Linked DNA regions of Homo sapiens: regions 1 and 3 are each linked to region 2. The links come from fine-mapping of genetic effects on gene expression. A gene starts in region 2. Each other region holds a variant in brackets. All regions are shown on one strand. Distances are from middle to middle.

The links. PIP is the estimated chance that this variant, and not a neighbour inherited with it, causes the effect.
Region 1: its variant is fine-mapped to the expression of LAMP5 in whole blood (TOPMed, PIP above 0.99).
Region 3: its variant is fine-mapped to the expression of LAMP5 in whole blood (TOPMed, PIP 0.94).

The regions. Positions count from the first base shown.
Region 1 is chr20:9,442,273-9,452,659 of GRCh38, reverse strand. It overlaps PLCB4 (phospholipase C beta 4), which reads right to left. Exons shown (of 40, transcript NM_001377142.1): 31 at 8,630-8,679; 32 at 8,417-8,482. Among named protein-coding and RNA genes, the nearest start is that of LAMP5, 67 kb to the left of the region's middle. The variant T/C (reference allele first, on the strand shown) is at 4,656.
Region 2 is chr20:9,508,072-9,518,458 of GRCh38, reverse strand. LAMP5 (lysosomal associated membrane protein family member 5) reads right to left here and starts at 3,869. Exons shown (of 6, transcript NM_012261.4): 1 at 3,543-3,869; 2 at 2,834-3,006; 3 at 2,328-2,459; 4 at 2,098-2,203; 5 at 231-419. The coding sequence starts at 3,606. LAMP5-AS1 (LAMP5 antisense RNA 1) reads left to right here and starts at 3,461. Exons shown (of 5, transcript NR_109957.1): 1 at 3,461-3,695; 2 at 9,294-9,579. RefSeq lists enhancers at 2,350-2,934, 7,253-7,302.
Region 3 is chr20:9,546,335-9,556,721 of GRCh38, reverse strand. All of the region lies in intron 7 of PAK5 (p21 (RAC1) activated kinase 5), which reads left to right. Among named protein-coding and RNA genes, the nearest start is that of LAMP5-AS1, 37 kb to the right of the region's middle. The variant G/A (reference allele first, on the strand shown) is at 4,669.

The DNA.
Region 1 (10,387 bases), 66 kb after region 2:
GCTGCAATGCTTTGGAAAGTAGGTATTTCAATATAAACATTATTTCTTCCTGGACAATGAAAAAGGCATTTAGCTACAGCCAATGACTTATATGAAATCAGATTTCTTTAGCTGCTCAGCCTCCCAAGCACAGAGGAAATCAGTACAATCAGAAATTTCCAACTCTAAATGACACTTGATGTTATAGCCTAACCTTACTCTTGAGAACCAGAAAAATGGGATGCTATTCATGACTGGAATGGGTGTACATGTTGTTCAGGTTATATAACCCCTCTCACCGTCATATTTCCTTTCACTTATTGAAGAAAATAGTGCCTTAATTTAAAAGCAAATTTATTTTCTTTCTAAGGTAGGCTTGACTTTATGCAAATCTAATTCATGAACTTCTTTTAACGGTTTCATAAAATATAAATGGGGAAGGAATTTTTAAGTCTTTACCAAGACTTCCTTAATTTCCCAGCTAAGAGATTTAACACAGGACTTGATCTACAATTCATTTATATATAAATTCTTTAGAAACGCATTCATGCACAAGGCCTCAGCATTCTTGTCTTTAGGAGAAGGAGTGGAGAAGGGTGATGCTGGATAGGGAGATTCCCAACATAGGAACTTACAGTGGGAACAAAGGCTAGGTGGGCTTGCTGTGGATCTGGGCTTAATTTGTAATTGGAATGCCCCATAAATCTAGCCATATTACCAATGTGTGTGCACCTTTGTGCTATAAACACATTTCCTCCAGAGCTTCTGCAATGTGGCACTGGGTTAAGGACATGGGTTTTTCAGTGCTGGGGTGAGTCACTTACCTTTCCAGAGTATGCTCATCTTTATAATTGGGATAGTGACATTTACTTCATAGGGTTGTTAGGATTAAAAGTGAATCTAATGTATCAAATGTGTGTTACAGCTTATTCAAAACACAGTGACATACAAACCTATCTATACTATTCAATACCCATGATAACACACAGAGAGTGACTTGAGATAGGGATATCAATCAGACTAATTAAATCAATAAATGTTTCCTCCATGCTTGATCTACTGCCCCAGGAATAGAGGAACATGTTGATGTATCCCTGAATGTATTTAACTACTCTTGTAATACTTTGGTACCTACTAAAATGCCCTCCTCCTAGTCTTCTTTCTAAGATTTAGAAATCATTATGGTTGGCTAACCCATGTGTTAATTTTTCCTGGGCAAAAAATTAAATAAATAAGGGGCTTTCTGCAGGTCTCAAAATATATCAGAAGTGCCACAGTCCTATATTATCTTGCAAATATCATTGAAAGGAGGGTGAAGGCTATTTCTTTAAATATTTTAGTGCAGAACAGGACAAGTAGAGACTTTGAGGCTTGGATGTAAATTGACACAGATTTTTTTCCTAAGAAAATATTTTGGTGAACCTTATTAATCCAATTAGATATGAGGAATAGGGCTCTTTGTACCACAAAGTTGTTTATGATGGATTCAACTCTATGTAATATGCTCTACAAGAGCAGGGCAGGTCTTTTCTCTTTACCAGTACATGGCACAAAGCCTGGTACAAAGTATATGCTCAATAAGTATTTATCGCATGAATAAAAAGTCAGCATAGGAAAATAGCAAGAGGACTTAGATTCTGGTCCCAGCTCAGCCAATAATTAAACAACTGCCCTTGTGTAACATATATAAATCTTCCCAGGCCTCAATGTCTTTATTAGAAAACTGAGTTAGGGCTGGGCACAGTAGCCCATGCCTGTAATCCCAGGACTTTGGGAGGCTGAGGCGCATAAATCACCTGAGGTCAGGAGTTCGAGACTAGCCTGGCTAACATGGCAAAAACCCAACTCTACTAAAAATACAAAAATTAGCCGGGCATGGTGGTGCACTCCTGTAATCCCAGCTACTCTGGAGGCTGAGGGACGAGAATTGCTTGAACCCGGGAGGCATAGGTTGCAGTGAGTCGAGATCATGCCACTGCATGACAGAGCAAGACTCCATCTCAAAAAAAAAAAAAAAAAAAAGAAAAGAAAAGAAAAGAAAACTGAGTTAGGTACCTTTGCCTAACCGAATTCATGAGTTGCTTATGAGATGCAAGGTTACTAAACATATGCAAAAATAATTTGAAAAACTGAAAGCATATTGAATTAAAGTGACTATAATTAATGTCAGTAACAGGAAAGCTGGTCCTGAAAAATTGTCTCTGTTTCTCTTTTTATTCAAAACTCCATCCCTGTGTGGTAGGCAGTGATTGCTGAAGTGTTTTGGGATAACTTGATTCCCAGACACCACTTGTCCTTTCAGAAAGAAATGGGGATCCTAATTACTGATTTCCATGTGACTCTGGTCAAGTCTCAGCTCATTGTGCTGTAAAATGAAGGAGGCATGAAATGATCTCTAAGTCCATCTTAGCTTAAAAAAAATGTCCATTATTGGTTTTATTCTTTTGGTCCTTAGTTAAATCATGAAACACTATTGAAGAGACATACATTTCTCATTCATTCAAGCCAAGAGTACCAAAATTAAATGTGTTAACTTAAAGTAAATCTTAACTGGGACATTTTGGGGAAAAACATGTATAGCATTCAGAAGAATTTGTGTACGTTTCTTATCCAAGTTAAGAGTAAATTCAGCTTCTTTTGGGGAAAACTGCTGCTGCAATTCATTCTTGTGACTGATGTGACTATGGGCGTGAATGATCGCACCACAGAGGGTGCTGAAAAATTGGAGTAAATCATGTTTGCTCAGCATGTAACTCTGAGATTACCAATAGGCGGACTCTGAGGGCAACTGCTGTGTCTCTGCCCCTTTCCACTGCAAAACTAAGTTATAGGTCTGGTACTAAGGTCTGACCATGAATTAAAATTGATGAGTTTAACAACAGTCTTGGTGCTGTCGGCTAAATTGCTTGCATAGCAAAGAGAAAATTTTCCATCAGTAGCTTTACTAAAAATGCCAGAGTTTAGTAGGCTTCTCAGGCATTTCATTTGACTCATTTAATGTTGATACTGCAAACTGGTGGCCTAAGGAATGTATCCTGCCTGCAGATGTAGTTTTTAGTTTTGGATTTTGTTTTGTTTTTTCCTACGCAGTTTCAAAAAGAGGTTGAATTAGACGCCGATAGTAAAAGATCAGGAAATTCAGATAAGCTTTCTGATTTTTTGACTCTCCTTTAAGAGGACACGACTGACCCATCTACTCTCCAGGCACCAATGGTGGTAGCTCAGACTGACTTGGCCTGTGGATAGAGATGAGTGCTCCCAGCTTTTATGGAGTCAACACCTGTCCAACTTCCCTCAGCTACTTCCTGCTTGGACCCCATAGGCATTTGAATTGTAATTCCCCTTCTAACACGTTACTGGAGATATGTATCCAACTTTGGGTTTTACATTTTTGGCTCTAAGGAATTGACCTCATTGGACAATTGAAAAGCATGCCTGTCTCTTAATGAAAGTAACTGCAGCTCTGGATCCCAATGAGTCATGTGCTGGGGGAGGATTATTGTTAATTAATTCTCCTTTTTCTGTGTCTCATATAATAGACACTTGAAAAACCATTACCCTAGTTTCCATTTCGAATTGAAGTGGTTCTAGAAAGTATGAGACAAGTAGAAGTTTGATTGCCAGTACATTCAGAGGGTCAAATGCAGTTGATCATTGCCATTTTCCAAAAATAGACATTTTAATGAGCATTTTTATATCCATCTGGGGTGCAAATGGTCGTTACCCCCATCTTTTCTTCTCAATATCCTAACAGCAAATTGCACACCTATTTGCAAATGGCAGAACCTCACACTCACCCCACTGTTCCTTTCTATCTGGTAGCTAACCTGCAAGTTTGGAAATAAGCTCTCCTTGGGACCATACATTTATTTCTTAAACTGCTGAGATATAGTTCATAGATTCTCTGCTTCTCTTTAAGTCTAAAAAGTAGAATTATTTATCTAGGCCAGCAGTGGCAAATCTTTTGGCTTCCTTGGGCCACATTGGAAAAAGAATTGTCTTGGGCCACACATAAAACGCTGACACTAATGATAGCCAATGAGAGAAAAAAAAAAAAAAAGTCTGTGCATAAATCTCATGTTTTAAGAAAGTCTACAAATTTGTGTTGGGCTGCATTCAAAGCCATCCTAAGCTGCATGTGGCCTGGGAGCTGCATGCAGGTTGGACAAGCTTGATCTAGGCTGATATGTAAGAGCTGAGATCTCCCTACAGTTGCTGGATATAGACTAAATAATAGTCCCTGTTCTTAGCTACCAAGGGCTGTTTGGGCCAGGGGCACACTAGTAGGGAGAGTGCAGCCCAGGTCATATTTCTTCATCAGCAGGTCATTTTATGACATAAGGCTTTGGGGTGGTAAGCCTTAGCTCCATGTTGGGTGGCTGAAAACTATTATAAAAGAGCTGTAGATGTCCTTTCACAGAAAGGATGTAGGAATTAATTCTTACTATTATGTGGCAAGAGGATAAAACCTCTGTTTCTTTAAGGAGGCTTGATAAGTGTCTTTGCAGGCGATTAGTGGGGTTTCTACTAAGGGCTCAAAAGATAGTAAAAAGTGCTACATAATGTTCCTAAAAAAACAGTCCTCAAAATTTAGCATGCAGAGGAGAGGAGTTTATCTAAAATGTATTTCTGTATTTCCTATATTCTTTTCTTAGAGATGATAGCTAAGTGTCAGA[T/C]AGGCATAAGAATACATATTTTTGTAAAGCCTCCAGCTCTTGGCCCAATGACCTTATGTTGAAAAACCAGTCCTGAAGGAACCCAAGATATTTGTGCCCTGATAGGTTCATGATTGCTCTTAAAAACCTGTTAGTGAGACCATAAAGAAAAAGATGTGTGAAGAGAAGAAAAATTAGTGTGAGAAACATCAGAGGCAGCTGAGTATAGTGGTTACAAGTCTGAGTTCTCAAGCCGGGCTGAATTTGGTTCAAATCCTGACTCCACCACTTAAAAACTAGATGATTTAATGAAGCTGTGTTTTTTTAAGTATTAATAAGCTAATCTGTTGAATAGCCGGTAGGCTATAAAAATGGCCACAGTTATTTCCCTTTCTGCATCCACTCCCACTTCTGATGTAACTTTGTCACCTGTCAAAAGGTAGAGACCTCATAAGGCCAGACTTAGGACCTACTTTGGCCAAAAAATGAGGTGGAAGTGATGGTGTGTTAGTTCTGAGCTGGGGCCACAAGAAACTATGCTTGATCTGCTTGGTCTCTCAGGACCCCAGCCATGTGAACAAGCCTGGACTAGCCTGCTGGAAGACAGGAGACCACATAAAGCAGAGAGGAAGTGGTTTAACAGAGGCTGACCTAAATCAGCCAGTCCCCCATCTGCCAACCAAACTGGTAGTAACAGCAGATTCATGAGTGAATACAGCTGAGACCAGAAGAACCATCCAGCTAAACCCAGCTCCAACTACTGATGCACAAAATTGTGAGCCAAATAAATGGTCATTGTTTTAAGTCACTACATTTTAGGGTGGTTTGTTACCCTGCAAAAGCTAACAGATACAAAACTCATATAATTATAGTACTCCTTTATATAACTGTTATGAGAATACCTAAGAATATGTGCTTAAGCAAGTATCAATATGTACAAGCTAGTATTGCCACTTTAAAAGTGTTGACTGACAGAAAAATCAGTGTTAGGATAAACACGTCATATGGAGATCAGGCATGAAGTATGTCCAATGGTAATAGATTCACCACATTGTTCCCCTCTCCTTAAACAGTTTTTCATTTTTTGGTTTTAAAGACAACATGTTTTTGTTGTTGTTGTTGTTGTTTGTTCTGTTTTGTTTTTGAGACAGAGTCTTGCTCTTGTCACCCAGGCTGGAGTGCAGTGGCACAATCTCAGCTCACTGCAACCTCCGCCTCCTGGGTTCAAGTGATTCTCCTGCCTCAGCCTCCCAAGTAGCTGGGATTACAGGCACCTGCCACCATGCCTGGCTAACTTTTGTATTTTTACTAGAGACAGGGTTTTGCCATGTTGGCCAGGCTGGTCTTAAACTCCTGACTTCAGGTGAGATCTGCTTGCCTTGGCCTCCCAAAGTGCTGGGATTACATGCATGAGCCACCATGTCTCGCCTAAAGACAATATGTTAACAGAGCTGGCATCGGTGTATATTAGGCAAGTAAATATTCATTATATTCTTCATCTTAGAAGTTAGCTTGGGCCGGGCATGATGGCTCCAGGGAGTTAATGGACAACTCTGATGTAGGTTAAGTTCTAAAAATTGAGGGGCATCCTTCCTTAGTCACAGTCCTGATAATCAGCAGTATATCAACACTGCCCAAAGTTGATAGTGATTTTCCCTAATGTCCCATGTGCTGTCACTGCATTTGACCCAATGAGGGAACTTGTCCACTTAGTGAGCATCCCATATCCTACACAGGAGTATGGTGCAAGACTATGGATTCTGGACTCTTGATTTTGGTTCAAATATCAGCTATGCTGCTTCCTAACTCTGGGACATCAGATAACTTCACTAATTCCTAATTCCCTCACATATAAATGGAGACTCACATAGAATTTACCTTACAGGGTAGAGTCTTAAATGAGACAATGCATATAAGGTGCTGAGCACAGCATCTGAGAATTACTGAGCATGCAGGAATTCTAGCTGCTATTATTGCTGCTATTATTACCACCCGCCACAGCATATTTTCTGGCCATGCCTCAAGAAAATATTAAATGAAGCCAAAATCTTTATGTTTCCAACTAGCCCAAAGGCCACTGAGGTGTCTGCTCAATAAAAGAGATCCAATTTAAATGCAAGAAAAATCTGTTAGATAGTGCTGCAGCATACGGGCATCCACTCTATTCCAAATAATTAAAGTCATTTAAGGTGCTTTCTCTCTTATTTCTCATTCTTACTCTTTTTCTGTTGGCTTTCCATAGTTCAGCCTGTTGTCAATAACCAACAACATTGAAGCCCCTACTTTAAATTGTTCTGTCTCCAATAACCCCATTGAGCAATGTAAGGAATTTCACTGAATGGAATTATTCATGAAACTTAGAAACAGTCTTTGAAGTGAAGTGACTGTATCAGCAAATCCATTGAGCCCAACAGTTCTGTAATACAGGGAACATTACTAGGATAAGATTAGGCCTAACTTCTAAAAAAAATCAGTGTTAGGATAAACTCTTAAAGAAATGACTTCTCAAAAAATCAGTGTTAGCACAAACTCTTAAAGAAATGACAGGGGACAGGGTTCCAGACAATGTTCTCGGCATCTCAATACGTGGAATGATTAAAAGGTACATCACTCAAGCCAAGTTCTGAAGGACATGCCTTGGTTTGAGGCTTGGGTCAGAGAATAAAGAAACAGGAATGCAAGATTAGTTTAAAAGAACTCAGAAGTTCTTTCAAATTAATAAATTATAAATTAAGTTTCTCTTGCTCTCATTGCCCTTAATAAAAGAGGACAGACATTATCCTACCAGCAGCAGCTGGTTATTATATGTTCTTAGGAAGGAAAGAGGTACTACCTTTTTCTTCTTTACCTGTGAGGGAGTCTGGAAGTGACGATGTTTGAGGGCCATGACGTTTTTCAACCCACAGGAGAATTCCTGGGGCCACCTCCTGCTGTTCTCTTACAATTTGCAACTAGCTCTTGTAATTTTTCACAATCACTGTCAAAATACCACTTCTTATGGGTAAAAAGCAAAAATAAATCTATTTCAGAAGTAGGCTACTGGGCAAGATTTACATAAGGGAGAAAAAGTGACAAGTGTTCTCTCTCTAGGTGCTGTGAGTGGGAGGTTGACAGATTGCTAGCATCTCCCTCCATGCACCAGTGTGTATGGCAAACTATGTGACAGTGACCTGGCAATTTAGGTAACTAGTGGCTAGAATTGTGAGCTGGTCTTCAATATTTTATATAGTCATGTTATTAGTGAAATAATTTTTCTTTTTTTTTGAGATGGAGTCTTACTCTATCACCTACACTGGAATGCAATGGCACGATCTCAGCTCACTGCAACCTCTGCCTCCCGGGTTAAAGCGATTCTCCTGCCTCAGCCTCCTGAGTAGCTGGGATTACAGGGGTATGTCACCACACCCAGCTAATTTTTGTATTTTTAGTAGAGACAGGTTTTACCATGTTGGTCAGGCTGGTCTCAAACTCCTGACATCCTATTCTACCCACCTTGGCCTCCCAAAGTGCTGGGATTACAGGCGTGAGCCACTGTGCCCGGCCTAGTGAAACAATTTTTAAATGGATGAAGCTTTGTTATGCATTTGAAAGAATTGTTAGAAATGCAGACTACAAACAAGTGACAAGCACTCCCAAACCGATTCTATTTTTTAATTTCATTGTTAACCAGTTAGAATGAGTTATTACTGTTAAGTGGTCTGGTATCAGCTTCAAAGTAGTGTTTTTGGCTACAAATGATTCATCCATACATAACACAAAATAGTAGCTGTAGAGCACTGTACCTTTGCATGTTTCTTCTTTAAAGAATTTAGCTCCTTCTGCTGTTTCTTTAAATGCTTCAAGTAAGCCTTTGGGAGAAAAATAGAATCAAAAATAGGTTTTTTGTTTTTTCTTTTTGTAATCACAATGATTACACTTGGTGAGAAACAAAAATATATTGGTGTCACCAATATGTGTAATACAAGAGTGCTTGCAAAATAGTCAAGCAATTTTACCTTCATCTGCTTTAAGTCTTCTATCCTTACTTGAGGGATAAGTTCAATACCTAAACAAACAAAAAAAATTAAGTCACTATGTATACTAAAAATCAGAGAGAATAACTGGTAATATAGAACTGACATATCGAAATCTCATCGAAAGACTTTGAAGCAGCTTTACATATGATGAATATAAACATCTTAAGTTCCTATTACAAAGCAATTAACTGGACAATTGAAATGTTGAATGTCTTAACTTAGGTCAGGTTTCCTACAAGCAGAGCCTGAGAAGGGGATTCATGTGCAAGTGATTGATTGAGGGCAGACTCTCAGGAGAAACCCCTAAGGGAATGAAAGAAGTGGAGCAGGGCAGAGGAACAAGGTAGGGTGTGTTTCCAGTAGAAATCCAGCCTCAGTCTGATCCTGCAGGGAGCTCTTCAGTACAAATGGCACCCAAGAGTCATTCCACCTTGGCAAAAAGAGGCTGGGCATTTGTAACCCTGGATCAATCAGCTGAGTGCTACAGAGGTTTCACAAAACCTTTCAGGCAAGGGAACTCTCATGGTCCCAGGGCAATTCTATGGAGAAGGGCAGCTGAAATGCCCAATCAGCCAAAATTCATAGGAGCTGTGAGATGGGATAGTGAACCCATAAAGGGGAGCTGATCAGGCACAAAAGTATCTATTATCCTTATTCTTACCTTTGTATTTCAAGGCATATCATGCCAGTCAACTAATTCCCAACTCTATTCTCAATTCAGTCATTGTGAAAGAATAAAACATTTTTTTCTGGCTTCTCCCTTTTACCAAATTCAATCTTAGCATTTAAGCAATGTGCTATTGAGCACAGCAATGCCTTAAACATACAGGAAATAATAAAATCAAACCAGTGTATAACAGGAGCATACCAGGAGGAGCTAGGGTAATACACTAAGTCATCCTGCTATCTGAGTGATGCTAGGCCAGGTGTTGTCATGGCAACAACAGTTGTAGCCAGATCCTCAAACAGTTTCTGTTTGACTGCAGATTTTCATCTTAGGCAAACAAAATGAATGTGTACTCTGTGCTGTAATTGATTTCCATTAGAATCCCAAAGGCTAGGTATGATATATTCAAGAAAGATAGGCATCAAGTCCCAGGCTCTTGTTTTTCCCTTTTATTCATTTTAAGATGTGCACATTCAATGATAGGGTGGTCAGGCCGCAGAAGGAAAGTTTTGGCTGAGGGAAATCAGCCTTGTGATCTGTAACATTTTATGATCGGGGTATAAAGGGTCCATGGGGCTCTCTACTGATCTCCTAAGTTGGCTTTCACAAGCTGTCTCTCTAGTGACTGAGGCAGGGTAAGGCAAGGGAGTGACTCCTGGCACACAAAGAGCTCCCTGTCTTTAGGCCTCAGCTCTCTCATCTGTAAAATGAACATACAGGATTTGGGGAGTATGCAAGGTCCTCCAGAGATCTAGCAAATTCTGAGTTTGACCCAGTCTGATGAAACTTACACTCTCTCTCTCAATTTTTATTTTCTTTTTGTCTTGGTTCAACTAAGTCTTGATTAAAAGGAACCTACAAAAACATAAACTTCCCTCAACTACCTGGTTTTGTGTTTTGGGGGAAAGACACAATTTGTAAAAATGTTGATTCCCATAAGTGATTTAGTTAGAAAAAAAAAAACCACACTCTACAGAAGAGGACAGTTCCATCTGCGTGCCAAGAACAGCCTTCCTCATAGAGCTTTGCACAATAATGGGAATGTTCCATGCGTGGGTCTGTCCAACTGA
Region 2 (10,387 bases):
TGAAGGTAAACGGGGAGGAGGCTGGGAGGGAGAAAGAAAGAACTACTGAGATAAGTTCATACATTCAGCTTACTGCTTTTTTAGTCTTTGAAAATTATTAAAGAGGCAGGCAGTGTCATTTCAACCTAGAGGAAATCCAAGTGGTAACATCCTGGGGCCCTGGTAGGTCCCTCTCTCATCCTTCCTGAAATAAACTAGGTCTTCTTCCCCTCCATCCCCCAACAACTTACCTTCACTGAAGACAAAATCTGAGATAATGTCAAAAGGTTGGATGTGGACCGCAGACAGGATCATGGTGACCGTCTTCTGCGGATCACTAGAGGCCAGTGAAATGGTTTGTTGAGCTTGACACTCATAGGACTTCCCAGCGGGGGTGACCAAGGCAGAGAGGTGGTGCGAGTTGGCTGTGTGCTTCCCAGCTACAGCAAGAGCCCAGAGCAATAGTTAGAACCCTCATTGTTCCTAACCTAATGTGCCAGAGAGCTGGCTATTGCCTCTCAGTTCCAGACACCACACCCCTCCTGTCCTCTCTGTTCCCTTGCCAGGGCTAGGGCTCTACAAATGGCATCAAGTGGTGATGAAGGACAAACACACCCATTATCTTGAGAGCCAGGGCTCTTTCAATATTAATTTGGAACTCCTTTTTTGAAGAGGAGAATGATACTTAAAAACCCAACCCTTGTTACTGTATAAAACCTAGGCTGGGCATGGTGGATCCTGCCTGTAATCCCAAAACTTTCAGAGGTCAAGGTGGGAGGATCGTTTGAGCCCAAGATTTCTAGACCAGCCTGAGCAACATAGTGAGACTCTGTCTCTACAAATACACACACACACACATACATTTACAAAATTAGTCTGGCATGGTGACACATGCCTGTAGTCCCAGCTACTGGGGAAACTGGGGTGGGAGAATCTCTTGAGCCCAGTAGCTTACTCCAGGCTGTGGTGATCTATGGTGGTGCCACTGCCCTCCACCCTGGTGGACAGAGTGAGACCGCACTTCAAAAAAGAAAAAAAAAATCCCTAATAATGGAGATTCCAAAGACACAGAAGGAACAGTGACTTGGTTTTCCACATTTCACACGGGCCTGGCAAAGAATAAAACATCTTCCTCAACAAAGCCGGACAGATTGCTGGTCCTCTGGATGCTTGTCCTTACACACATACATCCCCTCTGAAGGTCTGCCTCCCATTGCTCTTTTTCTGACCTAAGTTTGATTTTTCCTTTTTCCTTTTTGGTCTAATTTAACTGGGGGACATCTTGCATCTAAACTTTGATGAAAAAGAAAAAATCCTCCTTTTACTGTGATAACAAAAAGGGGTGAAAAGGGAAAGATGACACATGTATTTTTATGTATTCAATAAAAATCCTTTCCCAACTCAGGTGCCTGGGTGATGAAGGGCCTCATTATGAGTGAAATAGACAACTTATAAAGAATAAAATAAATTTAAATGTGGTCTTTGACGGTGTCTGCAGATAGGAATATTGTTATTTGGGGGATGAACGCTCGTTTTGCCGAGGAGGATCTGGCTGAGTTGTCGGAGGGATGGGCCAGAAACGCTAGTAAATTATACATGGTGCAGAATCCACTGTCAGGTAGCTGCAGTCGATGACTGAATATCCCGTGCGAGCCATGCTGCCATGCGCAAAAAGACACTGAAGGCCATCACATCCTGACTGAAAAGGAAAGTCGCACTGCCCCCTTGCAGTTTTAGCGCATAAGAAACAAAACCAGGATGCGGAAGAAAATTAAAATGCAGCTTTGCCCTTCTCCGTGGTCCTTCAAAGGCCAAATCATAAGAGGTCGTTTTGAAGCACCAGGGAACGACAGGCCTTCAAGGGACTTCTTATCTAGGATCAGGCCACGGGTGACGTTTGGGTCCCCACGCCTGCGGTTCCTGGCGGATCTACAAGGCCTGAGACCCAGAAGACTCATGGGCGCTCCCGCCTCTTCCGCCCTAAAGAGCAAGCCGAGGGAAGACTTGGCCTGGGACCTCAAAGCGTGGGACGGTTTCCAAAACCTTGAGGAATTCTCTCTCCAAGCCTGTTCTGCGAGTTCCCAGGCTCCCTCCCCAGCCATGCCAGCCTCCACTCACCACTGACTGCGTCTTTGAAGTGGGTTTTCTCCGAGGAGTCGTAGACAAACTGCACTTTGCTCAGCCTCCAAGTCGCCTCAGGTCCCTTGGACATGTTGTGGCTTTCCTGTTGAGCCGGGGAGGTGCGCTTCAATCGTCCCCGCAGCGTCTGGGTTCTTAAACCTAGGGGCCGCCACTTCCCACACCCACGCGGAGCCTGCGGCCCCTCTGCCCGCTGGGCTCGGAGTTACCTTTACAAAGAGCATTTTGAGTGCATATGCGCGATCCACCCAGAACACTTGCAGCTCCGACTGGCTGTGGCCACAGCGGCCCTTCACCTCAGCTCCCCGGGTCAATGCGATATCGGCCTGTTCTGTGATCAGCTGGGAACACAGACGCCCCGCGCCCCCTCAGCTCGCCCGGCCCCGGGGCGGGGGCTGTAAAGGGCGGCGCGTCCAAACTCTGGGTTGCACGCTTGGGCGCTCCTTTGCGCGCGCGCATCCCAGGTTCCGGGAACATGCGGTTAGATGCTCTACGTGCAGCCCCGATAGGGAAGCGGAGAGAAGGGGGTTTACTTTCAAAGCAGGCAGGGGAACAGAAGGCATTACAAGCTGGAATCCCCATGCAGCATTCGGGAGCAGCCTGCCGGGGTGTGGGAAAGAAGGCGGGCAACCCAGGTCTTCGAAGAGCCTTGAGGAAGGGTGCCCTTCGCCCTGGAGCCCTAGGAGCAAGCTGAGGGGGGGGAAAGATTCCTTACATCTACGTAGTTGCTGGCCCACACATCATAAGGTACAATAAATTTGGCTGCAAACTCTGCCATGAGACACGTCGTCCCATTTTCCCGCACCACAAATATATCTTTTTCAGGGTTAGTGGAAAGGCCTGAGAGATTTTCCACTTCTTGTTCTGCCATGATTTGAGCCATTGTATCTGCGGAACAAACAAAACAATTCCATCAGTTCAGGGCTCAGCCCACGCGTCTCGGGCGCTAGGGTGGGGAGACAGTGCTCTGCAGGCTTTGGAGTGACAAAGTTCTCTGCCAGCAGCTGTGCGCTCTACGAGCCGTTTCTCTAACCCGGGTCTAACAAGCCTCATTCCTTCGCTGTTAATTTATAATGAAAATACAGTTAAAAAAATTAAAAATCCTGACTTTGTTTGTAATATAGCTGGCTGTTTTCTACATCTTGGGATTTTAAAGTAAATATTTCTTGCCAATGCTCTGACCTCACGAAGCTGGCCTGTCTAGGCTCTGTCTGGAATATGCCACAGAGGTGTATGGCTCTCAGGGGAATTCCCTGCCACCGGCGAGGAAGGCCCTCCCTCCTCCCCTAAAAGAAAAAAAGAAAAAACACCGCAAAACATTAAGGGCCATATTTTTTATCTCAAGCTAATTGACTTTACTTTGCCGGCTCTGTTCTCTGCAAAGAGTGCCCGTCCTCTCTCCCAGTCGCCAAATCGCTACTCACGGAACAACATCAGGAGAACTCGAAGTCTGTCGATGCTGGGGACCCCTCTTCCTTGGAGATCCATACTCGCAGTGCCCCGAATGAGGCCGGCTGTGCTGCTGCAGAGGCCGCCAGAGAGGGAATCCCTCAAAGTCGCCGCTGGAGTGGGCCGGGGTGAGCGAGAGGCGGGGGACAGAGAAGGGGGAGGGAGGGAGCGCGTATTCTGTGAGCGCCTAGCTAGGACTCGGTGTCGAGCGCGGCACCGACAGCTGCTGGCAGAGCAAATCGGCTCACTGCGGAGGAAAGGACCGCACGGCGGTCCACGGCTGCGAGTGCTGAAAGCAATCCGATTGTGTGGCAGGAGTGGCTGTGGCTTGGCTTGTGCGGAGGGCCAATGAGATCTGGGGGGACTAAACTTCTCCCTGGGTCTGTTTCCTGTTCTGCAACTGCATCCGCAAAGATGAGTCTGTTCTGAGAAACTTAATACCACCCTCAGCCTTATTAAATCTCCTTACCAGGTACAGTTATTAAGTGGTGTAGATACCTTATCACTGGAGTACTGTCTTCTGAAAACGCATCTGGTTCCCGAAAGAAAACGGTGGAGCAAAAATTGTTGCTGATTCGGGGGAGGAGGGCTATGCAGGAATAGAGAAGGGAAAATGCTATGGCAACAGTTTCCTGAATTTGGAGACATCCCCTTCTCTCCCCTGCTCTCAATGAGCTCATGGGTTTAAAGTTAAATTGACGCCTCCTCGAACGAGGCCATCAGACAATGCAGTAGCTCCATGTGGGCTTATTTTCCTGTGAATTTTGCTCCCGGGTGCATGAGGACTCTGAACTCTGGGGTCACCTACCCTCCCGCATTATACTGTGACCACTCTGCCAAAAAGGGATGCAAGCAAATCAGAAGTTTTTGAGAGTTATCTAGTGTCTCCTAGGACAGAAATTTTAGAATTATGCCCTAAGTAATGTCACATAGTTATGTAAGAAAAACACACACTGATATTACTCTAAAGCCTGTAGTGGAACAGAAGAACAAATACTACTGGGCTAATTCCTGTATTTACATATTTGGTAGCTTGCTTATTTTTTATTTTTGCTCTGTAAATCAGAATACAGCTTTCAAAAATACACATGCAGTCCTCATCAATTGTAGTGATGTCCAAATATTTTATTCCTTAGAAGATATTTCATAATGCAAATAAATGTTGCATCAGTAATATAATGTTATAAAACAATGTCATATTAAAGGGAAAATTGCAAAGTATTTCACCTGCATTATCTAATTTGATTCTCCCCAATCTTAGAGGGTAGGCAAGGAAAGATATGAGTTACTGTGGTTTTACATACCCCAAAACTGAGGCTCAAATAAATTAAATGACCTTCCCAAATGTCACATGGTCAGTTAGAATTAAAATACAAAAATCACATGCTTTAACTCTGTGAGATTATCTTCATTTCTCCTTATATAATATTTTTACTCCATATTTTGACTTCCATAAAAATCTATATTCAATATCAAATAATAATCTGAAATCTGAAATCTCTATCATTAATTCACATTCTTCAAATTTATAGAATGCTGTTTTAAGTATAATCACATTCTGACATATCTGCCACAAAGTATCTATATAATGTTTTTGGCTTTCAAACATATTCCTATATCAATCATTAGATCACTAGCAATTCAAAGTATAAAGTAATATTAAAATTGACATTATATTTTGACATCTTGACTTTTATGTTTGTAGTTCAGTATTTCATCCAAACATTTCTCAAGAACTTTACAAAGATGATTATATATAGAAGAATTGATGCAAATTTTACAGAACTTAACAGAAATGATTTTATACAGAAGATTGATAAAACGTCAGTTCTCATCAGTTGAAAGTGGAAGAGATAACATTTGTATGTGTTACATTTTTTCATGTTAGCAATTATTATTAAACACTTATTTTCCTGTAGTACTGTAAAACTGGAAAACAATGAGACATGTAATAAAGTATTTATTCTCTCTCTCTCTCTCTCTCTCCAGTATTTTATGAGGACAGAAATGAGTAGATTTCAGTCCAGGATTCACTACTTATTATTTTTGTGACCTTCTGAAGATTTTATTTGTTCTCATCTGAAAAATTGGGAAAATAACTCAGGGGATGGCTAGTTAAACCAAATGGGCCAATGAGTATAAATAAACAAAGTACAAATAGATCCATAAACATTAACCGAATACTTACTACTTCCAGTATGCTTGATGCTTTGAAAACCAAAAGATATTTATCATTACACAAGTAGGAGAGACACCTATAAAAGATTTTGACAATTTCTCTTGCAGTATGTTATTGCAGATATCTTCACTATATAAGTTGTTAAAAGATCAACTGAATTAATTCATGATTATCTGCCTTAATAATAAAAGATTAGGTGAGTAGTAGCATTGGTCATTGATCTTAAAATGTAGTAGTTGATTTACAAATGAGATGGTTGTTCCTTTGAAAATTATACCTGATATAAATGATCTCTTTGTTGACACTGGAGAGTGTACCCTAGAGTACTCAAATGGGTTGAAAGAAGAAAGAAAGCAATTTTAACTCTTTTTTTCTGGGGGGATTATTTTCAAAGCACAATCAGTTTAATGACTTTTTTAATATTTAATCTTAAACATGGCTAACAAATGCCCATTAATTTATCATCTTATCCACTGTGATACATTGCAATAGGAGTTAGGTCATTATACCTACAACTTTCACCTACATTAATTAAATATCTTTCTAATCATTCTGGAAAAAAACTCTTTGGTTCTCTAAAATAAGCAAAGAAGTGATCAAGGAGCAAAATTTGCCATTAAATTGCATTTTAATATATTAACAATGTTCCCCAGAATTTGCTCTACTTTTCATTTCTCAAGTCTAAAAGATGGTAGGAGAAATTGACATAAATATGTACACCTGTGTGGGTGGTAACTGTGTCAATTTTTATTATTGCTGCTGGTGGTCAGTAGAAACTGTTAGGGTGCAGTGTGACCTAAACACACTGGATTTGGGATCTCCTCTAGATCTTCTAGGTCCTTCAAAGGCTGTTTTTCAATTCATATGGATACTTACTGAATTAGCCTTTATGAATCTCATGCCATTGAGTGGTTGCTGTTTTATAAAAGGGCAAGAAGAGGCCCTTGCATAGAACTTTCAATTTGGATGAGAAGAATTTACATAAAGATTCCAGTTAGCCTAGCACAGTGTCTGCATAAATGTTCAGGGGGAAAAAAAAGTAAGACAGGCATCCCAGGTGGGAGAGTGGTTGAAATTGATGAAAAAAGGTCTCTTGGAGAAGGTGAGTCTTGAAAGAAGTTGACAAACTGATGTAGGGTGGAAGGAAGGATACGGATGGAAGAAATATCTATTGAATAGGGAATCAATGCAAAGATGTAACTCTTCATCCATCCATATTTATCCATTTGCAATAAAAAGCAAATTAGGCCGTAAATCAACAATGCCTTATGTACTATAGAACCCCTATTTCATTTCCGTATTTGATAATTTACCCACATATGGCATATGCAAAAGAATGGCCTATGCAAAATTTATTCTAAATAAAATTAAACTTTTTAAGTTGTTAGGGGCATCTTTTCATACTTGGTTGTGCAAGCAATTGACTTGTATTTGTAGAATCAAGAAACAAAACTATGAAAATTAGTGAACAATACTAATAAGAAAAGCGTATTTATAGCTTCAAAAGGAAAAGGCTGGGCTTTGTTGCAGCTGAAATTTGGTTTATTGAGGTTTCAGTTCACTTTACAGTAAAGTGTAAAAATGTACTCCTTGCTCTGTTGTTCCCACAGCCACCAAGCCATCCCTCTGCAACCCACACACAGACAACGGACGCACACCCGAATAACAGAAGCAGAAATAATTTAAACAAACAAGATGCATGCAGCTGTTAAGCCAGACTTTCTACTCACCAAAACTTTTCTTGTGTTCAGCTTATCATAGAACAATTAATTCATTTAGTCATTGCCTTCAAAGACCTTCGCAACCCTTTCTAGGATCTAAACTCTTGTGGGACAGAAACTGAAAAATAAATGTATGCACAAGAATTATTTTTCAGTTTCTATCCCACAAGGGTTTAGATCCAGAGCAAAGAGTACAAAAATAAGTGTGCGCATGAGCAATGTATGCACAAGAATATTTCGCACATACATTGCTAAGCCCTAGAATATTTGGAAAGAATCAGAAAATTGAGTTTAGGCTCCAATGCACTCAGTCTGCATGCCCTTGGTGTAATTTTCCTCATCCTAGTGCTTCTTTGGTGTCTCCTGCATCTACTCTAATGAAACAATGGTTATTTCTGCAATAACGGTAACCAGTGGAGGAAACAAACCACCAGAATAACGGCCTTTTTATTGGCTATGTTCACACTAAGTCCTGAAAAAAATACCATTTATGAGTTCATTTAGAAGAATTGCCTTCAGCATGGGGCAATATAGAGAACTGCATCCTTATAGCAAACCCTAAATAAGTAAATGGTGAGGGGCCAGGTAATCATTCCTCAAAATTTCAGTAGCAAATAAATCATTTTTGTCTTTTGAATCCGTGATTAGTTAACTGTTCTGGTCAGTCTTACATTTTTGGTCAGTGATACACAACTCACTCTGCTATCTCGGGAGGGAGGAAAACCTTGTTAACTTCTGGGCAGGGCACCTTTCTGTAAGGTTGAATTAAAACTCATTTGAGGATTTTAAAAAATCTTTAATGAGTCTGTTCTCCAAGAAATGACATCTGTCACAATAGGCCTAAGGTTAGACTAGCTGTGTCTCATTTAACATATTTTGCTACCTGAATTCTGTGATAATGCAGTACCCTCAAAATCTCTGAGATGGCACAGGAGTCCATTGTTCCCTTGGTTACTACTCTCTCTCTCTCTCTGTTTTTTTTTTGTTTTGTTTTGTTTTGTTTTTTTTTGAGAGTCTCACTCTGTCGCCCAGGCTAGAGTGCAGCGGTGCAATCTTCGCTCACTGCAACATCTGCCTCCTGGATTCAAGCTATTCTCCTGCCTCAGCCTCCTGAGTAGCTGGAACTACAGGCATTTGCCACCATGCCCGGCTAATTTTTTGTATTTTTAGTAGAGACAGGGTTTCACTATTTTGGCCAGGCTGGTCTCGAACTCCTGACCTCGTGATCCGCCTGCCTCGGCCTCCCAAAGTGCTGGGATTACAGGTGTAAGCCACTGTGACCGGCAAATTACTCTTTTAATTGTCTATCTGAAGTTATCTGCATATTAACTTGAAGATGTGTTTGGAACTAAGGAAAATTTATATTAATGGCCTTTGGGAAGGAGGGTGAGAGTGGAGCCCAGAGCCCACTGTCTCCTATTGAAGCTTTGCTTGCATTGTAGCTGGAGTCCTGGAATTCCCTGGGGTGCTCTGATGTTGTAAGTTTAGGACTTTGTTTTTTCTCTCTCTCTCGTTGTAAAAGCATAGCAAGATGTTTTAGTAACAAGGTAGTGGGAAAGGGAGAGTGTATTGGAAAGGCAAATGGGATGGGAGTATAAGAAGCGATATGTTAGTTATGACTTTATTACTCTAGTAGCGACAACATGTGGAAGGAGTGGCTTCAATTCTCTGGTCTTCGACATAGCTTTCCTAAAGGATACCTCCAGAACTACATGCCCCAAGTCTGAGTGATCTGAGTAGGGAAGTAATCTGAGCAATATCCTTTGGCTGATGGGGGGTGGGGTGCTCGGAATTTCATTATTAACATGTAATATCTGAACGTGCAGGAAGTGTGCGCTGCTCAGGACACATGGCCCGTGGTCTGTGGTGTTACCTTTGGATGGCGCGGCGGTAGGTGGGCCTGGTTGCTCATGGCTCAGTATCCCTGGGCTGGCCCGCGCGCCCGCTGCGGACTCCAGACTTGACGGCTTCTGCCCGCGGGAAGGAAGATGCATTCTACTGTTGGGCGCCTCGCTGCCTGCACCTCTGGCTCGCGATGTCCTCAACCTGGGAAAGACGTCGGCGCTTTGCACCCGAGTTGGGCTCCTTGGCACATTCGAGCAGCTGCTCTGGGTATAGCGATGGGTGATAAAAGTCATGCCTACTTGCAACGGCTAGGTCCAAACCCGCTCCAAAGCTCAGGGAGAGAGGTCAGCCCCGGGGCTGGAGTTGAGTACGTTCAGGCCATGGCGACAGGAACCACGGGGTCTTTAGTGTTGGGGTACCTGGAAGAGTTACACATGTCACAAGAGTCCATTGTTCCCTTAGTTAGTTACTGTTTTTACTTGTCTATCTGACAATTTTAAAGGGCGACGAAAGTTCCTGGTAGCGTGGCTCCTCTGAGACTTTCTTTGAAGTTCTTATGCCCCGGGAAGCCTCTGCCGACCTTGCTCTGGGGCGGGGAGGATGGGCGACGAGACAGACCCTGGCGATCACTGGCCGCGGGCTTCTCGGGTCCCTCCCCTGTCCAGAGAAAAGCCTGGAGACTAGTAGGGGAGGCAGGGTATTAAACCGAGGAGAGGGAGGAGACCAGGTTACAGAGGCTTCGCTTCTTTTTCTTTTTCTTTTCTAAACCGCCAGCACAGTATCCGTGCCCAGGGAAATTCCCCCGAAGAGCCCCAACGATCTAGCCTCCAGGTAAAATGGGGAGGATGCTGCGTTCCAGGGCCAGGGGCGCGCGGCCTCGCTGCAGTTTGGTCCTGGGACAACCCCAGGACCTGTAAGAGATTTTCCAAACAGAAAATAGATTCTGCTTAGAGGAGATCGAAGCAGAGACTGCCAACCAGGCGGGCTCCGAGGGCGCGCAGGCAGTCCAGGCGGTTACCCAGAGGAAGCGGTGTTTGTGCGCGGGGCTGGCGCCAGCCCTGGAGACAAGTGGGTT
Region 3 (10,387 bases), 38 kb before region 2:
CAAGGGATTCTGCTGAAACTCATCAGCCACACCAGGGCACAGAGCATGGAATATAACAGCCAAGGAAATAACCAGTTGACATTCCAAGGAAGGCTTAGTTAAATGGAAGAGTTTCAAAGCATAGCTCTATACCATTAGGCTCTCCGGAGCCCCCTGAAACTCCCACCAGAGGCAATGGCCTTGGCATGAATGGAGCCAACCATTCCCTTGATGTTCCTGTCTTTTACACCTGCAACCCCTGCCACATGGAAAATGTTCATGTCATATCAGAAATTGCCCAGGAATGATCAGAGGGCAGCCAGAAGAAACTGTCCAAGCACTTTGGCTTTTCTTTCTTGTTGTTTTAAAAAGATTGTAAATATTATTGTAGAAAATGTAGTAAACTCAGAAAAGTATAGAGGATAAGACAAAGATCACTCCTAATCCCATTACCGATTTTTCCCGTATTTCCATGTACATGTATACACAATTTGCAAACTTGGGAATGTGTTTAATGAGGAGTTTTAAGTCCTGCTTTTTGCATTGCTTTAACCATTGCATTGCTTCTCTTAAGAAAGAACGGTACAGTAGAAGCATGTATCAGTCAGGTTTTGCTACATCCACTCAACAGTTAGTGGCTTAAAACAACCACCATTTATTTGCTGACTTATCTCTGAGCCAGTATTTGTGCTGACTCCTCTGGGACAACTCATCTCTGTACCAGCTCATCTCTGCATCATGTGACATCAGCTGAGCTCCCTCTTGCAGTTGTGATCAGCCTATGGTGATAGCCTTACTCATTTGCTTGGCAGTCAGCTGGCTCTCAGCAGGGACAGTGCAGGTAACAGGGCCAAGTATCACTCATCTCCGAGTCACCTGGACTTACTCACATGATACCTGTAGCAAAGTTCCCAAGAGCACCAAAGGAGGCAAGCCCTGATGTGTAGGCCCTTTCAAATCCTGTGCTTATATTATATTTACTAAATATTCAAGACCAGACTCAAGGAGTAGGGATATAAACTCTGCCTCTTGATAGGAGAAGATGCCAAGTCACATTGCAAAGGGATGTGGATACAGGTAGAAGAAGACTGTGTATGCATTTTTTCTTAATCTTCCATATGAGTGGACAGCTATGAGAAAAGGTCAAGAATCCTCCCTGGCCTGACTCCGGAAAGCACCTACGCAAGGCTCCACGGTGTCAGAATGCAATTTGCAAAGCATTAAACTGGTCTAGCAGAGCAATTTCAAGAAAGACTTTCTTTCCCTGTTTCTAGAAATTTATGGTACAGGCTTCCTTGCTGTAAGATCATATCCAGTATCAAAATCAGAAATGAGACTAAGAAGTCATTGTTTAATCAAATTACTTAAAGATCTCCCCTCCCCTCAATGTGCAAGATTTTTAAATCATTGAGTTGTCATTCTCAAGAGCAGAACCTTTGTCTCAAACACCTCCTGCATCCCTGTGCACCCTGTAAAGAGCTCACATAAATAGACACATTGTAGATGCTTTTAGTCCTTATTGGTTTGTTCTCTCATTCATTTACTGAACATTTGCTGAATGTCTGCTACGTGTAACAGACAGTTCTAAATCCTAGGGATGAACAAAGCAAAATCACTTCCTCTAGTAAGCTTATTTGGGGACTGGGAATGTGATAATAAACAAATAGATAAATAAACAAACAAAATCCCCACCAAACAAGGGGTGATAAATACTAAGTTTCCTAGGATTAATTTAGGCATGGTAAGGAGAATGGGGAGTGATGGAAGTGATGGGTACTGTCTTATGGAGGCTGGTCAGAAGATCCCTCTGATGTGGTGGCGTTACAGCAGAGACATGGGGGACTGGACCCTGTGGCTGCCAGAAACAGGAGCATTCCAGGCAGAGGAAGCAAGAGCATATTGAGTGGATCTTGTGCCTCTTGGCCATTTTGTCCAGAGTTTACTCATTCATGTTCAGAACAGTGCATCATATTGACTCCAGTGGTTTCTCCAGTATCTGTAGGAAAAGGAAACTTTTCTTTTAAAAGAGAGCAGAAATGGAGTGTGGCTACTCCAAGAAAAGGCTTAGAGTGTGTTATTATATGAGTCTATTAGTGTACAACATTATATAGTGGAGAAGACTTTTTCAATTATCTATTGCTGTTATAACGAAGCATCTCAACATTTAGAGTCTTAAGTCAACAGTCATTTTAGTATTGTCTCTTATAGCTCAGCAAAACAGTGCTGCTCTGACTTGTGGTTAGATAATGCCTGGGGCCAGAGTTATCTGGAAGTCATCCTCACTCACATGTCAGGTAGTCAGTCCAGGCAGGCTAGCTGGAGCTGCCACCAGATCACCTACAAAATAGGTGGCCTCCCCATGTGGCTTGAGCTTCCTCATGGCATGGCAACTGGGTCCCAAGAGTGCGTCCCAAGAAAACGAGGTGGAAGTGCATGGCATTTTTATAACCTAGCCTCAGAATCAAATAACATTACTTTCACCATGGTCACAAGCCCTTCCAGATTCAGGGGGCAGGGGTTTAGAGTCCTCCTCAGTGTGAGAAAAATTAAGTCATATTGTAAGAAGAGCTCATGGGATAGGCAAAATTATTGTTGGCATTTTTGGAAAATACTGTCTGCCACACAAGAGATATTGGGTTCTCTTCCTGTTTGAAGATGTTCAACATCATTGGCCTTTGAGAAATGCACATTAAAACTACAATGAGCTATCACTGCACACATTTAAGAATGACTAAAATGAAAAATAGTGATAACAACACTTATTCATACACTGCTCATAGGAACTTAAAATGGCACAGCCACTCAAGAAAATACTTTGGCAGTTCTTTTTCAAAATTAAAAATGGACTTACCATACGACCATCACTTGCACTCTGAGGCATTTATCCAGAGAAATGGAAACTTATTTTCCCACAGAAACATGTACACAAATGTTTATAGCAGTTTTCTTTATAATAGTTCCAAAGTGGAAACTACCTAAATGTCCTTCAAAGGGCGAATGATTAAACAAATAGTATTAATATATCCATGTCATGGAATACCACTTAACAATAAAAACAAACAATTGATACACACGAGAACTTGGGTGAACCTCAGGGAAGTTATACTGAGTGAGAAAACACCAATCTCAAAAGGATACACACTATATGATTCCATATATTTATATATATACACACACACACACACTCATGAAATAACATAATTATAGAAATGCACAGCAGATGAGTGGTTGGCAGGGTTTTGGGGCTGTGGGAATGTGTCTGTAAAGAACAGCACCAGGAAGTCCTGTGCTGATGGTACAGTTGGGTATCTTGATTTTGGTGGTGGTTATAATAGGTTGGTGCAAAAGTAATTGCCATTACTTTTAGTGGCAAAAACCACAATGACTTTTGCACTGTTCTACACAGTCTCCCAGACTTCTTCAGCAGGATCAAGCTCTAGTTGCCCACCGTAGTAACTCACCGGGTAACTAGCCTTCCCTTGGTTAGCTGACTAGTTGGCAACACATGATACAATTTCAGAGTATACTTATATACACTACACACACAATGAGTTCATTTGTAACTGATGAAATTTGAATACGTTCTATAAATTAGACCTAATCAATTTACAAGTGTTGATATTGTACTGTAGCCGTGTAAGATGCGAATACTAGGGAGAGACGGGTGCACGTTGCAACTTCCTGTGGATTTATCATTATTTAAAAATTAAAAAGTTGGCAGGGCGTGGTGGCTCACATCTGTAATCTCAGCACTTTGGGAGGCTGAGACAAGAGGATTGCTTGAGCCCAGTAGTTCAAGACCAACCTGGGAAACATATTGAAGTCCCATCTCATCTCTACCAGAAAACTAAAAAATTAGCTGGATATGGTGGCATTTGTCTGTAGTCCTAGCACCCTGGAGGCTGAGGCAGGAGGACTGCTTGGGCCCTAGAGTTTAAGGCTGCAGTGAGCCAAGATCATACCACTACACTCCAGCCTGAGTGATAAAGTGAGACCCTGTCGCCAAAAAAAAAAAAAACTAAAAAATTTTAAAAATTTTTTAAAGTTAGGAAAAATGACCGAGAATTGCTCAGGTTTGAAAGAATGAATGCTTTCTGTCCTCTCAAAAGACTAGATAAATTATCTTTTATCAACTAAAAGTAAATCATTCAATTATTATCTATGGCATAAGTAATATCTAACGAGTCACTAATTTGTGTTAAGAAGGGAGAATGTGGTGTTTGGGATTTGAAAGAGGAAAATAAATAGTATCTCACAGAGTGGCTTAGGAATGAATAATGTAATGTGTGTAAAACCTTCAGAAGTATACCAGGGACAAGGTAGATGCTAAGTCAGAAGGCATTTCCTCTGCCCTTGTAATTAAGTGTTGTGTAGAATCATCATGACCTTTCCTTGGCCTAGGGCCAACATTTGATAAATGAATTACTTAGGGGCCAGTGAGCAGTGAGTGACTGACTTTGACAAATTCATTGGCCGGAATTCAAACCCATGACCCGCTAAGTCCAATAAGTTTATGGAAAAGAGACACACACAAGTGGTCTTTGTGATCTCTTTTTCTTTTTACTATAAATTGATTGCCACAAATCAAAACTTGGAAGATGTCATATAAAATGTCAGATTCCTGTCTTCCTTGAAAAATCAAAGGGTCTGGCAACACTGTGCCTGGATTCACACATCATGATAAGGGAA[G/A]TGGTATAAGGAGGGTGAGTTGTACCACAGCAAATGCCGTTGGTGCCCTGCCCAGATCTTCCTGCAACTTCCTATTTCAGTGATCATTAGTTTCACCTCCAAATGCCACCATCTGCATCTTTATGCCTGAAGACTTCTTTTTCTGGCCACTGTTATCTGCTTTTTCCATAACGTTCTCTAACTTTACTGAGCATCAGAACCCACTGGAAAGCTTGACAAGAAACAGATTCCTGGGCCCCAACCCCAGAGATTCTGGTTCACTCAGGCTACGTGGTACCCAGGAAGCTGCATTTCTAACAGGCTCTCAGGTGAGGCTGATGCTACATACATTGTACACTGAGTGCCATTGCCTTACAAAGAAGCACCCAGAAACTAGGCACACAAGTAGCCCCCTTTTGCATTAGCCAAGACCCTAGAGCAGACACAGAATTCTTTAGAGTGCATGCAGTTTACAGAGCAAGGGTTTTTACATTCTATCTTTAAACCTGTAGCTGCCCTGTGGATAGACTCTCTTTTGCCCACTCTCACTAGCCCCCAACCCTCCACCATTCTTTTGTGGGAACCCTGATTCCTGGCCAGGACACGTGAGAGATGGATAGGATCTCATGTTTAAATTGCAGCTTTGTCTGAGTTCTAAACTAAAGTTCCTTGTGTGGTCCTTGTGTAACAAGCTACATTTTCTCCTTTTAGGGGGCGGACAACATACTAGTGGTAGTTCTCTTAGCCTAACTGCATTAGTGAGACGAAGGTGGTTTCCTAAGCAGCCCAGTTGCACAATTCTACCCAAAGTAAGGCTCAGCTTAGCGTCTATGTGATTTGCTTTTAAGATCTGCCTACAGTGCTTTATTGTACTCATTACTTGAGTTCTCATTATCTACTTGCAGATTTATTTGGACAAATGTTGTGTGCAATTATGTTCTTTTAGAAAATTGTCCCTTTTATGTACTTGGATGATTAAAGTATCATGCAAAAGCACTTATACTCCTACAGCAGCAGAACAGGCCTCACTTCCAAGTGTCGAGTTTCAATTGCTCATCTCACATTTTGTCAGGGAGATGGTTATTAGGATGCCAGATTTTGAGGGGTTTGGGCATTTTTCCTGCCAGCAAAGAGAAACCCACACTAGATATACTGAAATTTAAAACTGCCAATAGCAAAATGCTGATACATTCACCTCCTTAACCATTCAGGTTTCTTAAATTTATAGGCAAACAAAACTGGAACGTTTGTTCCTCCTCTACTCTCTGTGTATTGGGGTTGCAAATTTACTTACACCCTAGTTTTGGAAATAAACACACACACACACACACACACACACACACCACAATTATGGTTTCTATGCTTCCTAAAACTAACCCAGACTTCTTCACAGAGTCCTACTGGCTAGATTCTTTTTAAAAATATCTATTTTAATTCAATGCATTAAATTTAGTTGGCTTGAATGATTTGAACATTGTCTATCAAAGTCAACTACATTATTATGAGGTATAAATGATACCTTTATAAACCCAGTCTTTCAGATTTAACCACCACCTACTCCCTCCTCTCCTCTCCACCTTCACTTATTCCCAAGATGGAGTGTGGGAGGAAAGACAAGCATGGCTCGTGGGACCTCAGGGTGAAGGAGATAAGAAGCATCTTCTTGTTCCTTTCTCCTCCCTGCCTTGCTTTCATTGGACTCTCCTGCTACCTGGACTGGTGACCAGGTAGCAAGATTGACTGGTCCTACTGGTGGCTGGGCTGTCCAGGGGCTCACCTCTGCTGTACATCACAGTTGCAGCCTCTTCACTCACGGGTGAAAAGGTGCCCTACAGGCTGCCTCCTTGTCCCAATCACAGGCTTGTGCCAGACCCTTCCCCATTCCCTCACTGAGATTTGGAGGAACTTCCGAACCCCTGCACATCCCACACAGGCCATGGAAGACAGTAGCATTGCCACAAGCTCACTTCCACCCACACTATAGCGCCGTGTCTCCATGGAGTACATTTTACATGCTGGTGTAAAACGAAACAGTATCTGAGACAGGTGTCAATCAATTTAGAAGTTTATTTTACCAAGGTTAAGGACATGTCCAGAAGAAGAAGAAATGAAAAACATGGATTCATAGAAACTGTCTGTGGTCTGTGCCTTTCTCCAAAGGTTAGTTTGAGGGAAAGGGGAAAAGTGAGCTGGAGGGGAAAGAGGGAGGGTATGGTCATCCACTTGTTGCAAGAGAAAAGGAGCAGGTAGGAGAACTGTCAATTATGTATTGATCTCATGCTCAGCAAATCGGCACTTTACAGAATATGATGTGAACATAGAGTCACTACCTATGGAGGTATTTACCTATGACCTGTAGCTGTCTAATTAGGAACAAAACAGAAGGTAGCTTCTTGCAGGACTCAGCGTTTAGTTCAATTTTTCCTCTTGGCAGAATGAATTGGCGTCCTGAGTTTTTATTTTCCTTTCACACGGGGTATGGCCAAGGCTGGTGTTCAATCAGTTTTACCAGCATGTCTACACCTGTTTTTAAAATATTGCAAGATTTTCATGCTAGTTGGTTGAGAGCCACTGCTTTAAGTCCTTAGGCTATCCCCCATCACTCCAGCCCCTTCCCAAGACCCTCCTCACCTCATTAAAAATGGTAATCCTTCCCAGGGTAACTCTAGGACTTTGCTTGACTTTCTATCTAGGTTCCAATTGGCCTACGTTAATCTGGTTATTGAATATTTTGAATATTACCTCTGAACACATGCTTGTGGGGCTTCTCCTCTCCCTTATTTGTATGGGGATGTATGCAACACAGATATTTCCAAAGCCCACCACCATCTGCTTGGAGTGAAAAAAAGTGATATATCATAAGGAGGCCGGGACCTGACATAGTCAACATCACTCCTCTTTCTCTCCTTCTGCAAATTATCCCAGACTACAAGGGGTGGACTGTAGGATTTTTACTTCTGTGCATTATCGACTCCTCTTATAATAGGGCACCATGGATTATGGACCACGTATCACAACTACAAGGCCCTTTTTTTCATACTACATGTGAAATTCTATGATCTGAGTCCTCTGGGGTTGATTCTTGATAAGAAATTGTGAATATCACCTCTCTGCTAAACCAGCTTCTCTAGCATTTCTTTGGGAATAATCTAATCCCTTCCAATTCAAATCGTACCACCACTGGTCCAAATCACTGGCCTTAAGCCAATTAGTGAGAATATCATGAACAAGGAAATGAAAAAAAATCACATTAATAATTTCCAAAATGTTATTTTCATTTCATCTGTGTTCCAATTTTGATTCTAGCAACAGCTATCTTCAGTGTGCTTCAGATGTTTTCAGAAAGAGCTTCAATGTGTCTTCTGTCACCTGGTATACTATTATGTATGTGTGTCAGTATAAAATAAATCTAGTAGCATTTGTTTTCTGAGTTTCTGCTGTTTGTTTGCCCAACTCTTAAGGAACACAGTAAGGCTCTGCAATCAGAAAGCAGAGTTGTTGTCCCCAAGGAATGTCATCTCTAGCTAGAGATGGAAAATCAGCACCAGAAAACAGTTCAGGATTGAGTGCATGCCAAATTCTCTGAATTTGGAAAAGAGGGTGCAGCGCACCAGCATGGCACATGTATACATATGTAACTAACCTGCACATTGTGCACATGTACCCTAAAACTTAAAGTATAATAATAATAAATTAAAAAAAAAAAGAGAGTGATCAACGTGGGCTCCTGAGAATTCTGGAGGATGTTAGATTTGATAAAGCCCTTGATGTATACCTAAGAGTTGAATATGCAAGAAAAATCATCAAAAAAACTCAGAGTTGGGAATGGACCATAAGATAACCACCTCTTTCTGATTTGCCCAGAACTTTCTGGGTTTTAGCCCTGGATATTCTACATTCTAGGAACAGCCCTGGTCCCTAGGAATGGTTTTAGTGTGTGCAGAAAGCCATGAGGAATAAAATTGGCGACACGAAAAGGCACCAGATTACAGAGGGCTTTAAAAACCATTCAGGTGGACTCGTGTGTTTGCGCCAGCAGTAGGAAGATGGGGTGTGGTGAAAATGTTAAGGCTTTTGTCAGTATGCTAAAGAGATTAGACTCTGTGCAAACAAATGCCCCCTTATCCCCACCTGTTCATGTGACCTCCTCCCTCTTCTGTTTCTTGACTGAACTGTGATCTATGATTCAAGCTATAATGTGTATACCAACAGCCTGTGGCTCTTGTTAAAGTGGAAACTGACTTTAGTAGGTCTGGGGTGGGGCTTGAGGTTCTGAAAATCTAACAAGCTCCCAGGTGACACTGCTGCTGCTGCTATTGATGAAGATGATGCTTTAAGTAACAAGACCTTGGATCCCATCCCATCCCTCCTGAAGGGATGCTTTAAAAACCCTGTCATCAGTTATCCTCACTCTCTCCTCTTTCTTCAACATCTACCACTCTGGGAACTCCCTTCTTTCAGCCTGTAACTTTGCTCTTCAGAGCAGCAGAGTGGTGGTTAAATTCCCGAATCCTGGCTCTTCCAGTTACTAGCTCTGTATCCTTGGCAAAGTGGCCTAACCACTTCTGTGTTTTGGCTTACTTCTCTGTAAAATGGAGATAATAATATTTCCTACCTCGTTAGTTTCTTGGGAGCTGTCAAATGAGATACATGTAAAGTGTTTAAAGTGTTACCTGGCAGGTAGTAAGAGCTCAGTGAGTGTATTCATTTCCTAGGACTGCTATAACAAATTGCTACCAATTGAGTGGCATTTTCTTCTCTCTGCATGAAATGTATTCTCATGATTCAAGAGTCCAGAGGTCCAAAATCAAGATTTTGGTAGTGTTGATTCCTTCTGGAAGCTCTGAGGGAGAAGTTTTATATACGTTTCTCCTGGTTTCTGGTGGTTGTGGCAATCCTCAGTGTTGCTTGGCTTGTAAACTCATCCCTCCAGTCTCTGCTTTGCCTTCACATGGTCTTCTTATCTATGTGTCTGTGTGTCCTCTCCTATTTTTATATCAGTCATGCAATTTAGGGCCTGTCCCCAATCCAATATGACCTCACCTTCACTAATTAGACCTGCAAAGACTCTTCCAAATAAGATCACATTCTGCACTTTGGATGGATGTGAATTCTGGGAGATATTCAACCCACTGTAGAGAATAGTAATAATTATCATTGTCATCATTATCATATTCACCACGTTTGTAAATGCTGGATTTCTTCTATCTATATTAAAATACATCTCATTTCTTGAAAAGCACTCTGACTGAAATCTACCTGACTGCTCTCTGTATTCCACCACTGACTCAACCTGAAACTAGAGGCTACTAGGGATGCCCTCATTGCTGAGCACAACAGCAACTCCCGGTTCTTACCTGGTTTCATCTCCCTGTTGTGTCCTAGCTGCTGCTATCCCTACCTTGGCTTTCCCAATTTATTCTCCGTTGTTTCTCTGATTTCTTGATGTCTTTCTCTTCGGTCTCCTGTAATGCCTCAATTTCGATCACCCTAGGTGCCCAGTATTTCATATTTGACCATCTTCTTTTCTCATGCTATGGCCCTTCAAGGGTTTCACTACCACTCATATCCCAAGGACCTTCTCATCCTACCCTAGCGATGGCAATACCCAGATCTTGATAGTACTGGGAGGTCAAAACTCATCACATGATAAACCTAAAGTGTGTACATTTCACACTGTGTAAATTTTTAAACTGTTAAAAAAACACATTGAACTCCAGTTAATGCTAAATTAGGAGTG